Linked DNA regions of Homo sapiens. The protein of the gene in region 2 interacts with the protein of the main gene of each other region in a pairwise test. Each region holds a gene or a part of one and is shown on either strand. Other genes may lie near its edges. The genes, in order: XRCC4 and ASTE1.

Evidence for each region.
Region 1: the proteins of ASTE1 (region 2) and XRCC4 interact in binary tests that used the Homo sapiens proteins (3 or more experiments, as listed by UniProt).

Annotation. Positions count from the first base shown.
Region 1 is NC_000005.10:83,072,983-83,080,749, reverse strand, and holds the start of XRCC4 (DNA repair protein XRCC4), read right to left. Parts: upstream 3,204-7,767; 5' UTR 3,135-3,203; exon of another isoform or gene 3,088-3,134; intron 1-3,087. Other genes in the region: TMEM167A (protein kish-A precursor), read left to right, coding at 3,427-3,429.
Region 2 is NC_000003.12:131,023,597-131,031,649, forward strand, and holds the start of ASTE1 (single-strand DNA endonuclease ASTE1), read right to left. Parts: upstream 3,230-8,053; 5' UTR 2,911-3,229; exon of another isoform or gene 2,907-2,910; intron 1,999-2,906; 5' UTR 1,878-1,998; intron 1,736-1,877; 5' UTR 1,711-1,735; coding exon 409-1,710; intron 1-408. Other genes in the region: serine/threonine-protein kinase Nek11, read left to right, coding at 6,113-6,282. UniProt on the Homo sapiens protein: Structure-specific DNA endonuclease that specifically cleaves single-stranded DNA and 3' overhang DNA.

The DNA.
Region 1 (7,767 bases), on a different chromosome or scaffold from region 2:
AAATAAGTATTCCTAGAACACACGCACTGTGATACCACCTCCATCAATCTGATAACCAAGCAACTAAAAGGCAGGAAGCTTATACAGCAGGGATACGCTAAACAAGGAGATGATTCATGGCCCCGGGCTGAATGGGATAGGATGGAATAAGATTTCATCACAACTCAGAAAGGCATGCTATTTAAAATGTATGCATTATTTCTGGAATTTTTTTTTTTTTTTTTGAGATGGAGTCTCGCTCTGTTGCCCACGCAGGAGTACAGTGGCACAATCTCGGCTCACTGCAGCCTCCACCTCCCGGGTTCAATTGATTCTCCTGCCTCAGCCTCCTGACTAGCTGGGACTACAGGCACATGCCACCACGCCTGGCTAATTTTTGTATATTAGTAGAGATGGGGTTTCACCATGTTGGCCAGGCTGGTCTCAAACTCCTGACCTCAAGTGATCTGCCCGCCTTGGTCTCCCAAAGTGCTGGAATTACAGGCATGAGCCACCGCACCCGGCTGGAATTTTCTACTTAATATTTTCAGACTGTGGTTGATCATGGGTAACTGAAACTGCAGAAATCAAAACCTCAGATAAGGAGGGACTACTGTATTTAGTGCCTAATATATGCAATTCAACCATTCCTCCATTATAATTCCTCCTCTCCAGGGACTTTTAATTTAGCAAAGACAAAGCCATGCACAGTAATAGCCAACACTTTCTGAGTGCTTACTGTATGCCAAACATTTGCCTAGATGATTTACTTGTAATAACTCATGTAATCCTCATAACACTGAGGACACCTGTGCACTGGCGCCACAGAAAACTACAAATATCCACTATTTTTACATACGATTTTAATATACCCATGAAACCAAAGTTGGAAATATTCTTCCAGATGCAGGTGAGATAATACTTTTTGAACAGGCCAGACGTGGTGCGGTGGCCTACACCTGTAATCCCAGCACTTTGGGAGGCCGAGGCGGGAGGATCACTTGAGCCCAGGAGTTTGAGACCAGCCTAGGCAACATAGTGAGCCCTGTCTCTACAAAAAATAAAATAAAATTAGCCAAGTATGGTGGCATGCAACCATGGTCCCGGTTACTGGGGATACTGAGGGAGGAGGATAGATCGCTTCTGCCCTGGAGGTTGAGGCTGCAGTGAGTCATGATTGTGCCACTGCACTCCACCCTGGGCAACAGAGCAAGATCCTGTCTCAAAAATAAAAATAAATAATAATTTTTGAACAAAGGAATAACACAGACAGATTTTATTTCTAGTAAGGAAAGGATCCAAGATGGTTTTAAATGAGGATTCACTGCAAAGCTGCCAGAAAGATTTTAGAAATTGTGATATAATCTGAAAACCAAAAAGTAGGGGGTTTATGTAAGACAATGGAGCTAAACTACCACCTCCCAAAAAAAACTCACCACGTCAGATTAACTTTGATGTTTTACATAAATGCAATAAACATTATACATATTTGTTCAGCCTCATTTATTGGCATATGTGTTTCTCTATAGATAACTTAAAAACTGGCAATGCCGTTCTTTACTGTTTTGAAGCTCAGGTACATAAGAAGTCATAGCCTAAAATTAATTAAAATATATAGATATAGCAAATCAATTGTGATCTCTAACAAGTTAAGCTTTCTGATGCTTTTCACAGGTAGCCTGAAGCAGAGCTTCATACAGAAGTATTACCTTTATATGTAACAAAGATCAAGACAATCTTCACATGAAACCAAGGGCAGTTATGTCTACAGACACATTTACTGCCCTAAAAGCCAAGCTCGATAAATTGCACAACATAATTTCCATAACTAAACCAGGTTTGTTTAATTTGAATGGCAAGACCTAAAAGGTATAATATAAAGGAATTACAAGACAGAACATTAAAAGACTTTTTTTATCCTTAGGTGGAGAGTACTGTATCTTTTAAATACCTTTCTTATTCCCCTCTCCCCCAACCTTATTAAATTCCTTAAAGGAACAGACCATCTTTGTTCCTATGCTGCAATCTGAAGATCCATGAATAAAGCAGGCACCCAGTAAATACTTGCTAATTTGTGTATTTGACCAACTCTTGACAATTCAATATAACAGACTCAAATATCAAGTTAGTTATAGTTTAAAACAAAACCTTTGTGTGCCCTAGTGAACAATGTAAACACAAATAGCAGAATCCCAAATCTTCTAATCATTGTGTTGCCCTAAATACAAAAGGGTCTCATAGGCCGAATACAGTTCATAAACCAAAATCTCACGTGAGTTACCTTCTCTCTTTCTCTCTATCCACCTTCTAAGTCCATAAAAAATTGAAAACATTCTGAAAAGAACTCTCTCCTGCCTGAGAAAAAATACACCACACATTTAGAACCAAAAGCTTGCCATAAGGGGGCAAAGAGTGAAAAACTCTCATTTCTAATACTTTATTAGAATTCCAAGAACTACGCAAATTCAAACATGTCAAAGCGCCTGTTTCTCCATCGATAAAATGCAGAAAGAAAAACGTGTGTGTGTAGTAGAACCTCACCTAATGGGATAATTAAAATCAGAAAAAGCTAAATACTACTACTGATTAAAAGTTGCCTTGTCATTTGTCTTGCCAGTTGATCTCTTTAAAGTACCTAATCAATCGCTGCAGTCCGCAAACGGCAGTTCCTTCCCATTGGTTACCACAGAAAGTTCTTTCCTGACCTCAAATTGCCTAGTACGTTTCAGCCTCGATGCCTGGTTGGAACCCACAGTTTACCAATATCTGGGGATTGAAAGGACAGGCCAGTGCTGGGGAAATGCTCAAACAGCCTACTCAACACTACCCTCTGGATTCAACCGTCCTCCCAATCCCACAACCAACACAGAGCATTTCAAAAGTGCTTCGCATTCCCAAGAATCCCTCAGATGCAAACGGAGAAACTGAAAAGGGGGTGAACAGGTCGCACCCTGAGGATAATGCCGAGAACCCTAGCATCCCCAAAAGCCCACAAGAGGAAGTCGCGGGAGCTCACAAATTGAGGGGGATTCTCGCATTGTGGAGTTCTAGGGGTAAGTAGCAGGGAACTTTTTTAAAAAGAAAGCAAAAAGATAAAAAGAACAGAACCTCAGATTTTTGTTATTTAAAGAGGCAGCCCCACTTCCGGATCCTACCTCTCCGTGACTCTACTTCCGGTATCTTCCAAAACGCCCGCTTTCACAGATCAAGGTTTTGCAACCAATGAGAGTATCAGCTACTTCCGCCGGCCTGCGGGACGTGATCTAAATCCCGCCTTTTCCGGTGGAGAGGAGCCTATCCTAGTGTCTTAACCGCCCGTCTTGGTAGGCGGTGCCGTGACAAGCCCAACCGGACGGCTGGAGAGGGCGAGAAGGGCAGACGGGACATGCAGCCTCTTCCGCCTGAGCCCCGGAAGGGTGATGTGGCTGCGGCATCGCCGGCCTCGCTATGGTAAGAAGTGGGGCTCCCAGGTCGCGGTTGATCTTCGAGAAGGGGTTGTGGATCTAGACTAGGGCTGGAGTTTGTGCGGCAGCCCGGGGTGTGTGGGCCCGGAGCTGAGAGGCCTTGGAGCCATGTGGTCCCTCCACGGCCAACCAGAGAGAATCAGGACGGACTGTCCGAGGAAGACTGCTGGGTCGGCAGCCCGCCCCTCATGCAAAGTCCGCTTTCCTACTTTGTTTAGGAAAAAAAAATGCGTTGGTGTGTTTTAACACGTTGGCTACGTAGATTATGTGTGGTCATTGACCCTTTGAAGCATTAGCGCTTCTCGAGTTTCCGCTTGTTTTGTTGCAACTCCTTATCTCGCCCTAGGGGCTTTACTCTGGTGTTATTGTTTGATTTTTGGGGGGAGTTTCTTTTGGCACCAAACTCCATACCTTCATTTTCATCTGTTTAGTCAGTAGCCTCTCAAGACCCTTCCACCTTCTTCTCTTAACTTTGAAAATGCTGCTTTACAAGCTATAGGTTTTAATAGTTAAGAGTTCTCTGCAAAGGTGGATTGCCCTTCTAGGAGCTTAATGTACTTATTGGAGTGGTGTCTAGCCTCAGGCCTTCCTCCTCTTTTACCTCCAGGTCCATGTGCCAAATGTTATGTATATTTCTGGACAAAGGATGCATGCCTGCAAATAGACCCAAAAACAACTATGACTCCAAAAAGCTTGAGTCTCCATGGTGAAAAATTATGAGCCTATGTTCACAGAAGTTGCTGCAGAATCCCATATAGCAATAATTCATTTTCTTCTCTGGACGAATTTACCACCTGGTGGGAAGATGGCAGTTGAGACTAGGAAGACTGCCACTCTTAATTCTTATACATCTTTCTAGAAACTGAAGTTGAATTCTTCTACTCGTAGTGCAAGTCAAAGATAACTCTTTTTATTATCTCACTGTCAGACTAGCTAAAAATAAGATGCATATACTGTGCTTAAGATCAACAGTATATAAACTATCTTGTCATGCTTGTTTTTCCAAAAGTAGCAAATGCTTTCATTTATTATCACGTCCTATGTACCAGGCTCTTTTCAAAAAATCAGTTTATAAGCATGGAAATATCAAGTTCACAGCAACTTCTGAATAGATGTTTACAAGTGAAAGAAGTGAAACATGAAGAGACTGACTTGCCTCGGATCACACCTAGTAGATTGTAAAGCCAGTACTCAAACTTATTTTAATGTCCAGGTCCCCGAAATCTTCATGCTGTTATCGATAGAAACACAACATAACTAAGGATGAAATAAGACTTAGTGATTTGTTTCTTATAAATATAAGTACATAAATTAGACATAGGTGGAAAACGGAAACAACTGGCAGGTGGTTTTTTATTCCTGTGAGCTTGGGATGTCAAAAGTACATTGTTTGCAGAGCTACGAAGTGAGGTTTCAAGAAGGCTAACTTAGCAGCTTAAGAAATGGATTAGTGTCTCAGTATCTTTGAGTTCGCATCTAAACTTAGTTTATTTGTGAGGTAACCCAATGGTAATGACTTAATAAACCTGAATTACTGTATTTTAATGATTTTTTTTTTTTTTGAGATGGAGTCTCCCTCTGTTGCCCAGGCTGGAGTGCAGTGGCATAATCTCAGCTCACTGCAACCTCTGCTTCCTGGGTTCAAGCAATTCTCCTGCCTCAGCCTCCCGAGTAGCTGGGACTACAGGCGTGCACAACCACGCCTGGCTAATTTTTGTATTTTTAGTAGAGACGAGGTTTCACCATGTTGGCCAAGATGGTCTCGATCTCTTGACCTCGTGATCCTCCCACCTCAGCCTCCCAAAGTGCTGGGATTACAGGCGTGAGCCACCGTCCCCAGCCAAGAATCTTTTTAAAAAGCATTTCAAGGATAAAATGTTTATCAGCAGTAATAATTTACAACTGTCAGCATGAACAGTAATTGTAGCACTTGTGAATTAATACTTTTAAAGAATTTCAGAATGCCTTGTTCCCCCCAACACCTAACATCCTTCAACATTTCTCTCATGTCTCATCTCTTTCCAAAAAGCCTCCCTTAACCCCTTCTATTTTCTTCTACTCTCTTTAGGTATCTATAGGGATATTCCTAGTTCATATGTATACTTCCAGTATCCCTCTAGCATAACCCTTTTCACAGAAAACAGCAATAAGGTGTTGCCTGCATTTCTCCCTCTCTAGGCAGAATTCTTAAAGACTAGGTATTTTAATCTCTACAGTCACAGTGCCAGCTGGAGTTATTACTCCATTAAGAGTCTGGGCCTGTAATCTCAGCACTTTGGGAGGCCAAGGTGGGTAGATCAACTGAGGTCGGGAGTTGGAGACCAGCCTGACCAGTGTGGAGAAACCCCATCTCTACTAAAAATAAAAAATTAGCCGGGCGTGGTGGCACATGCCTGTAATCCCAGCTACTTGGGAGGCTGAGGCAGGAGAATCACTTGAACCCAGGAGGTGGAGGTTGCGGTGTGTCGAGATTGTGCCATTGCACTCCAGCCTGGACAACAAGAGCGAAACTCCATCTCAAAAAAAAAAAAAGAGTCTGGGGATACAAACATGCTCAGTGTCTTCAAGGATTTCACAGTCCAGTGGGGGAAATTATTAAATAAGTAAATTCCATCTGTTGTCTGCTATGTTGTAGCAAGACAACACATGTAGTAGAGAGAGCATGGGTTTAGACTGAGCCAAACAGAGTTAGAATCATTTCCAGTTCCGAACCTTTACTTGGTTAACTCTAAGGGAGTTTATTTTCATGTCTTTTTCTTGGTGCACTAAATGATTTTCACAAACTCTGCAAAGCAGGAATGATTGCCCACATTTCATAATTAAACTGAGTCTCCAGAGAATAGATGTGAAGTATTTTCTCTCCTCTTATAGCAGAAGATATGTAGAAAATCATTAAACACAGTGGAAGGAGTAGTACTGGCTGGGAACTGCTTGAGAGATGTCCCCAAGAAAGAAGTAATTCTCTCTCACCTGTACTTTAAAGAGTATTAGGGAAGGAGTCATTAGCTAGAGGTGGGACAGCAATCTCTATCCCGTAGATAAAGGAAATGGCAGTTATGGGAACAAAAGGCATGAAGTTCAATAGTTGCATGGAGCCTTAATGTGGCAGGAATAAAAAGAAGTCAAGTATAGTGGACTGGTGATAGATGAGGCTAGAAAGATTGGGGCCAGATTTTGAAGAGCTTTGTGCCATGCCAAAGACTTTATATTTTGATGATGTTTAATTGCTTACTTGATAAAGGCTTTGGAGCAGGGAAATAAAAGGTGTGCATTTTAGAAAACCAACTGGTAACAACATAGAGTATATTTAAATGGAGGAAGATTAGAATCTGGGAGACCAGCTTGAAAACAAGTGCTGTAGTTCAGGTATACAATGATTGAATGTCTCAACTCTGATGAGCAGTTGGGTTGAAAGGAAAGGAAAACTAGGAAAATCGTTTTGAAGATACTTAATGAAGGGTGATGAAGCACAGCTCCAGCTTGGATGATTTATTGGATGGGAAAGAAATACAGCAGATCCTCAATAACGTGTATGAGGAAGAAACTCCATTCCCAATTGCACGTTGTCTTCATGTCTGTTCTTCCCATGTCTGCATGGATTTTCTCTTGGTACTCCAGTTCCCTTCTACATCCCAGAGATATATACAATGGGTTTGTTGAGGTGTCTACACTCTCCCAGTTTGAGTGCTCTGCACTGGAATGATGTCCTATACTCCAGGCTACTGGGATGGCTCCCGGCACCGTCAACACTGAACTGAAATAGCAAATAGCCAGCTATCTTACTTGTTTTTATTAATCTTTCTTAAGTGGATGTATAACTCACATTTACTTCAGTGTTGAATATTAGAAGGGTTTTGATATTGATTTGGAAGTTTGGTGATGCTTTTGTGACTAGAAATATGCCATCGGAACTTAACTCTTGTTTATATCAATTCGCCTATGGTAAATTTTTTTTGTTATATATCTTTTGGCTTAAAGTTGCATTTTCCAAGGACCTGTGGATGACGTTAAGTGAGGGCTTACTGTTTTCGTTAAGCACCTACTCTGACAGGTGTTTTATTTTACATACAAGGTTTTATTAAAGTCGTATTATTGGCCACATTTTTCATATGAAGAAACAGATGCGGAGAGCCAAGTGTCTTGCCCAACATCACACTGCTTATAAATAGCAGAGCTAAGATTTAAACGGAACCAATTTGTCACGAAATGCTGTGCCCTTTCAACTATGCAACAATACCATTAATTGCACAAAAATATTAAGAAAAGCAAATTTTTTATGTCAGGAGTGGGTGAGGAGGTAGCAGTTCAGATAATTCTGTTGCTA
Region 2 (8,053 bases):
GTAGTCTGAGATGTTGTGCCTATGATTAGTGTCTATACACTTTTTTTGCAGTTGTGAATTTTTTTCCTTTTTTTTTCAGCCACGTAACCCATTCTATTGATAGCTAGTATTAACCTGGTAGTAATAACAATATAGTAGTAATAACTGTGACGATAACACAGACTACTGAAGTACAGTGGAAATGGTAGATTTAGAGCTAAAAGAGCTAGGTTTGAGTCCTAGCACTGACACTTTCTGGCTAAGACATTACCTAGTTCACTCAAGTTCTAGATTTCTTAGCTACGACATGAGGGCAAGATAGCACTCAACCTCATCAGTTTGTTATAGTAAGTGAACTAATATAGAAGACAGCACTTTGTATCCTGTAAAGTACTTTACAAAAATTTCATTAGTATTACAAATACTTACCTCAGTCAATCTGCTTAAGTCAGAATGATCCTTGGCCAGTTCTACTGCATCAATGATTGAGGTTCTGATATTTTTATTAATCCTTTCCACTTCACTGAAAGCTAGAGGCTGAGGAGGCAATGCATTCCAGGATGTCTTGTCCAGATGTGGTGAGGCATTTAAAAGAAGCCCATAGATGATTTGCCTGATGGGCTGAGATATTCTGTGGGCATTTGGTTGCTGCATGTTTTCCACCTGTGTGGGAAGAATGGTCCGTCTTAGGACCAAAGCATCACTGATGAAAGGAGATAGCTGGCCTTTAGCTAAAGCCACTAATACCCATTCTGGTAAACCAAGATTCAAGGCATCTGGACAGACATAAGTACCACACTGGAAGAAGTCCTGTAGCTTCACCTGGGACTGTTGGTATTCTTCCATGGAACAGCAGAGAAGTTCCTTAACATTTTCTCGATCCTTTTTTGGGAGGTATTTCAGAACATTATCTAGTGCTTCGGTAGGGTTGGCAAAATGAGACAACCAATTCAGAAGTCCCAGGATTCGGTGGTGTCTCCTCCCTTTAGAACTGGTAGCTCCAAGAGGAAGACGCGCTTTACTTAAGAATGTCTCCATGATGGGTAGATTAACATGGTCATTTCCACATAGCACCGCAAAGAGAGGTAGTAGAGCTTTATTCATATTGCTGAAGTGATGGCAGAATGCATCAAGGGAAAAGCATTTGGCAGGGATATAGTTTTGTGTGCCCTTAATAGTGTTCATATTTCTCCACTGAAAGCTATTCAATGGGCAAAACCCAGTTTTCAGGTCAAAAATGCAAAAGTCACTATCTGATGATAACACAGGGCAATTCCAATGGTTAGCAAGTGTCATAATGTCCCGATCTGCTTCTGAAAAGCACTGGACAAAACACACCCGCAGCTTGATCAAAACCTGTATGAATACTTCCCGGATGAGTAAGGGACATACGTACCCACTCCCACCAACAGAAAGGGAATGGGCCATCTGGATCTTCTCTCTAGCTCTATCCTTTAAAGTTGTAAGCTTTTTATCTGAAATGTCACATCCTCCATCTAATACAACATATGGGCATATATTACAAGCAAACAGTGATTCAAAGAATTTTTGTACAACATCTGCAAAAGAATCATAGTCCCCTCCATACCGGAGATCCAAGTTTGAACTGAAGCAAAGACGGTGGAAAAGAGCATAACCATCAATGACAATTTTTGTGTCCCGCAACTTCAAATCAGTGAAGAACTCATTACTATGATCTTCCACAAAACTCATTAGTCCTCGGATACCCATGATGACAGTCTAAAGAATTAATCGCCTGTTTAAAACAACAGAAAACATTTTCAATTGATGCTAGTTATGGGGCACCAAGTCATTGCTTCCAGCACCATTAAATCAATAGCAAATGTTATGAAGTGCTCTTTAGATAGAACATAGATATCAACATCATAAATTCTTACCTAGATCCTCAAGCAATGTTAGCTGTGCTTTTTCATTCTCCTTTGCTTTCTGATACAAGGCACAAATTCAATGGTTTCATGGGTTGTAATCTTTGGATGGTGACAGAGGCTGCTGCTAATTCTAAAGAAAAATCAGTTGAAGTCCATTACTGACACACCAGTATAGAAGTTCTGTGAACTTTGATTCTTAAGTGGTAATAGTCAACATCTTACAGCACAGAGTATTTGTTTTGTGGGGTCAAAGTAAAAAGTCCTAAGCTAAAAAAAAGATATCATATTCATCTCATAATCACAAAGCATTTGGGCTTCAGTAAAGTAAGGTGTGTAGGACCTATGATAAGGATCAAGTTTTTCTTTTGTATTGACAATCAGTCACGGAACTTCTTTCAGGCTTTGGATTTGTGGGCCCTTCTTAATTGGCATAGTTTTTGGTATAAGGAAAACTGCTTCATGCCTCTAGGAACCCCTCTATCCAGTTACACCCCTAACCACGAGCTCTTTTCATCATCTTATTTTGCATATCTGGCCCAGCTACGCTTCCTCACCTGGCTAACTTAACTCGCAGGATCAGAATTGATGGTTTTTCTTTTGACACCTCGGGCTTCAATATGGCACAGCACGGTACTGTTACTATTACTTAAAATCGTGACATTTTGTCAGTCATGGATTTTTTTTGCTATAATTTTGATTTTTAGAGATTGCATTAAAACTTACCTTGATTACTGAATTTTATTGGCATCCATTTACATTTTACACTTATCTCACCCTAGTTCCAGCCCTGTCAGTATCTCAGAACCTTATCCTGTATAGTACTTATTTCTTTGCAAGATAGTTTTGTAAAGCGTCCATAAGCAGAGACTGTGTCAAGGCGTCCTACGCAAATTACAGGACCTTGCACAGACAGTTGCATAGAGCTGCATAGGGGAAAGGCGGGCAAAAGGTCTGACCTAAGTCTTCAAACACAGGCCTTCATACACCGTGCCACCTCGGCCCTCACAACCCGCCGCCCGGACCTGCAGCAGAGCCCACCTACTCTGTCCTCCCAGAGGAGTAGCTCCTCCATCAGAAGCCCGCTAGAGCCCAGCGAGGACTGGCTCCTGCACGTGAGAGTCCAATCTCAAGAGCGGGAATCGGAAGTCTCCCGGTGTGACGTCTCTGGGAAGTACAGTTCCGTGATGCCGGTGGCGCCAGACTGAGCCAAGGAGCAGGTGTTCTCGGGCCCAGAGGCGCTAAGTAGCTAAAGAGGGCTGGGACGTACGTTCCGAAATGGCTGCTGTCAGGCTAGGAAAGCTTGGCCCGCCGGTCCTCCTCTGCTTTCTCCGCCTACTTGGGTCGGCGAACACTTCCGCCTTGGTGCCGCCTCGCCCCGACTTCCCAGTATGCCCCGCGCCGTCTCCCTGGCCACGGTTCCAAACAGCCGTGGCCCGCGGTGTCTGGCGCTCGGTGGGTGTGGTTGCCCCTAGTTTGAGGCCTGCCCGATTACCCGCAAGACTTGGGCAGCCCCGGGCGCCGCTCCGACCACGACAGGGAAAGGTAAAGCGAACTGTCCTCCTTGGGGCTAGCCAGGCTCCCCTGCGAGGGGGAAGGTAATGGTTTCAAGCTGCCCGGGCTGGGTTCCGAATCTCTAGGACGCCATGGCTGCGATCTCCTCGCTTTCCTGGACATCTTACCTCCGGATGTACTCCAGTCTCAGTGCCCCTCAATAAACGTTAACCTGCTTTGCCAAAATGTAAATGTTTAAAAAGGTGAAGAAGCAAGGAATTGTTCGTTTTACCTTAAGGTTAAGATTTACTTTAAAGGTAGATTTGTGCTGTAGCAGAAACTGGTGACAAATTGCCTTCCTCTTATTACCTGGGAAGATAACTACTGGTTTTCAACTTGTGATAAATACTCCTTCCGTTGTCTTTTGCCCCCAGCCAGATCTGTTTCACCGAGAACGGGTAGTTTGCACAAGGTAGTAACTTTCTCCAAGTTCCCATCTAGCTTTCTTAACTAACCTTTTTTCTCTCCTTTGGGCGGCAGTTGATCTGCTGGACACTTACTTGCCTTAACAAGGTTTGTTAAACACCTAGTATATGCCAGGAGGTATGCCAGGGATTGGGGATGCAGAAATAAAGAAGATGTGTTCGCAGTGCCCAAGTTCACTCAAACCTCGAGGGGGAGCGTGTTGTCAAGTGAACAGATAGTTCTAGAATCTAGACAATGCGACACATTCTTGGGTAGGTTTATGGTTGCGCAGAGGAGACTAATGGAATGGATGACCTAAAAGTGGACTGGGATGGGGGTGGCAGGGCTGAGTCTGTGAGGGTGGGCGGGAGGGAACCTAGTCCCAGAGTCTTCTGCAGCCTGGACCAGACTACTTAAGCACTGCTGGGTTTAGACTGTCCTTTAAAATAAGAGCCGCTAGAAGTGAACTTCTCATTCTGTCCGTCCCTAATTCTGTCCTTCTCTAAAAGGAACCTTAATCTCATCTTTAAAATAAGGAGAATTACTGAGTGACCTGAAGGACCCTTTTCAGCTGGAAAGTCTGTAAGTCCATATATTTATTTGAACAGCTTAGTATGGCCAGACGGCATCACTTTTATGACAGTGAAGGGGAAGTAAAAACAAAAGGTATATTTAGAGGCCTGCTCTGTAGTTGTTTTTCCAGCAGATTTTACTAACGTGTCTTTGGAAGGGAAAAGAAAAAGCTGGTAACTAATCTCACTGGTATTAGGTACAACTTAACTGATTCATACATTTTAAGAAGGAAAATGTTGTAAATGGGCATTTACTTATGTTCTGTTTTGAGGATTTTTGTGGTTAATTGCCCTAGTAGTTTTTGTGGTTGACGGACACCACCACGTAAAGCCCATTGACCATCCTTAAAAACTAGGTTTTTGTCTCATAGCTTTGGAATTGTTGAATATGAAAACCTAACTTCAAGGTGTAGGCAGTTTTCAATTTAAAATGTTATTTCTATATAGATTTAAAACAAAAGCACACTTTTCTTGATAACTAACAAAACATTTAACATTCTGATGAAATAAAAGTGATTTTACTTTGTACCTACTCATATGAAACAGTCCTGCCTTTCTTTTTTTTGTTTTTGTTTTTGTTTTTGTTTTTGTTGAGATGGAGTCTTACTCTGTCGCCCAGGCTGGAGTGCAGTGGCGAGATCTCACTGCAAGCTCCGCCTCCTGGGTTCACGCTATTCTCCTGCCTCAGCCTCCCGAGTAGCTGGGACTGCAGGCGCCCGCTACAATGCCCGGCTAATTTTTTTGTATTAGACGGGGTTTCACCGTGTTAGCCAGGATGGTCTCGATCTCCTGACCTCGTGATCCGCCCGCCTTGGCCTCCCAAAGTGCTGGTACTACAGGCGTGAGCCACTGCGCCCGGCCTAAACAGTCCTGCCTTTCATAACTGCCACGTCTCATAGCTCCCTGAGGAATTACAGATTTATCTGTAGCATTTATATTCCACTGACATTAAATGGGATTTTAGGTTTGAATTGAATTTGTAACTCTTCCTGTTTTTAATCCAGAGAGATTATACACAATGTGTACAATAGGAACTTCAGAAACTAGAATTTGCTGAGCATGGGAAAAAATTCTCAATCCTTATCCTTCTTTGCATCTGTCCTAATAAATACAAAAACTGTGGTTTAACATCTACAGAAAAAAATAAATCTAAAGGAAACAGCACCTGCTAATTCCTTGTTTAATCCTAACTCACTCTTTGTAAACCAAAGTAAATATAAGGTGAGAAGAGGGCATTACAAAAAGGTTGATGCAGATGTATAGATTTAAGGAGGTGATAATGTTCTTGTATTTGGATTCTTTTATAAGTAGTTGGGGAGTATAAATCTTAAATAAATGAAGAGATTGCTCATTGTAAAACAGATGTACATCCCAGAAATTTGTGGAAAGTTGGCTATAATTCACTTCTGCCAAATTTCAATGTACAAAGGGAGGCTCTTCCTGTGAAAGATTGCCTTCTGGAATTTGTGGTATCTCTACCTTTTAACATTTTTTTTCAAGTTGTTAACCAATATGGTGTCAGTCTGCTGATCAAGGTGCAGATATCACTGCACTTAACACTTTTTGTTAGACATCGTTTAGCAACCTTTAGACCTGATCTTTTAACTTTTCATCTTTAAGGAACTGACCAACACTGGATGAATTTGACCATTTCTTAGGAGACTGGAATGTTAAGTTTCTATAAATGAATGAACCAGTTCTCTCTTGTTTGGAGCAATGCTGAAATTCCAAGAGGCAGCTAAGTGTGTGAGTGGATCAACAGCCATTTCCACTTATCCAAAGACCTTGATTGCAAGAAGATACGTGCTTCAACAAAAACTTGGCAGTGGAAGTTTTGGAACTGTCTATCTGGTTTCAGACAAGAAAGCCAAACGAGGAGAGGAATTGTAAGTAAAAATGCTTCCTATGAATCTTGAGTAGGCTGCTTTTTGTTTGCAGGTCTTAGCTGATTAGGAACATGGAGCAGGCCAGGTATGGTGGCTCATGCCTGTAATCCCAGCACTGTGGGTGGCCAAGGTTGGCAGATCACTTGAGGCGAGGAGTTCAAGACCAGCCTGGCCAACATGGCAAAACCCTGTCTCTACTAAAAATACAAAAATTAGCCAGGCAGGGTGGTACATGCCTGTGATCTCAGCTACTTGGAGGTTGAGGCACAAGAATTGCTTAAACCCAGGAGGTGGAGGTTGCAGTGAGCCGAGATCATGCCACTGCCCTCCAGCCTGGGCAACAGAGCAAGACTGACAAAAAAAAAAAAAGAACATGGAGTAATGTCCACTTTGCTCTTTATACCAAAGCAAGTATTTCATAAATATAGGTAAGCTCCCTAATTAATCTTTCATATTAGGTTTAAAGGCATTTCAGCAGGTGAATAAAGTATCCAAATGACCTAAAGAAGGGAGCTAGAAATGGGATAGATTATGTGAAAATAAGATGTTTGGGCATGCCACAGTCTCAGTGACAATATTACTTCCACTTAACTTGATTGGAACTTCTTGAATGAGAAAATAAGAATTGTTCATAATGACTATTTTTAGAAATGTTACAAAATGCAAATAAACAATTATTCACATTTGAGATGAATAGGGTATACCAAAGAAAGTAACAGTATTAATTTTCTTTGGGCTTTCCATGGCGAGGATTTTCAAATTCCGTAGTCAGAAAGCTGTCAGATTAAACACTTAAACCAAATGGACACTCCTATTTAAAATTAGCTTATGTTAATGACCCCCTTGTCACCTCGTCTCTTTTGATTATGATCGGACCCTCTACACTTTCATAGTAGAGAAAAACTCTTAATAGCTTCAGACAGTACCTCCCTTACAGATAAACCTCTAGTTTTTGTGTAAAGTTTTTTTAATTTGCTGCAGTGGAAAGTAAGTTGGAACTGAAGTTAGGGTAAGAAACTTGCCTATCAGAAACACAGGAGGAACAGAAAGCAGAAGGAAGAATGATCCAAGATATCAGCCCTTAACCCCAGAAGACCACATTTTCATCCCATAATATATTGTTTTCTTCTAAGGTTTTAAGGCTACTCTAAGTTCTTCCAGCTTTTGCCTATTGGATATTTAAGAGTGGATTTAAAATCAGTGTGATAAACACTTTTCTACATCTTCATAGGTCATAGGAATTGTAAAGGTAAATGTTAGTGATGTTACTACTTTGTTTTAAAACTCAATCTTTTAAATGGTCTCTGTCCAGAATTTTTAAAAGCTGTAATTATCTAGAATTTATAGTTTTTAGTCAATTTCTACATGAGGGATGATAAAAGAGCTGGCATTTTTCTGATGTCCTTAGAACATGCATTATGATTCCTGCTGAAAAGGATTTTTTCTCTTTAATCCTAGAGGTGCTCTTCTAGCCATTTAGAATAGAATGATAAATTTCTGACAATTATTAGATAACCTTTATGGAAACATTGAGAGTAAGACCTAAACCAGACCCAGTACTTCTAAAAACTACACTGTAGGATCATATCCAATTTTGGTTTCTTCAACTAATGAGGAATATGAAAAATTTTAAGATAATTCACAGGAGGACTAAAAAGTTAATTAAAAGGATGTAAAATAAGATGTATGAAGATCAAACTTGAAACCTTTAGACTTAAGATAATAAGTGAGTGGAGAGAGTGTGTTTGTAGTCAGCGGGGAAGAGAGAGAG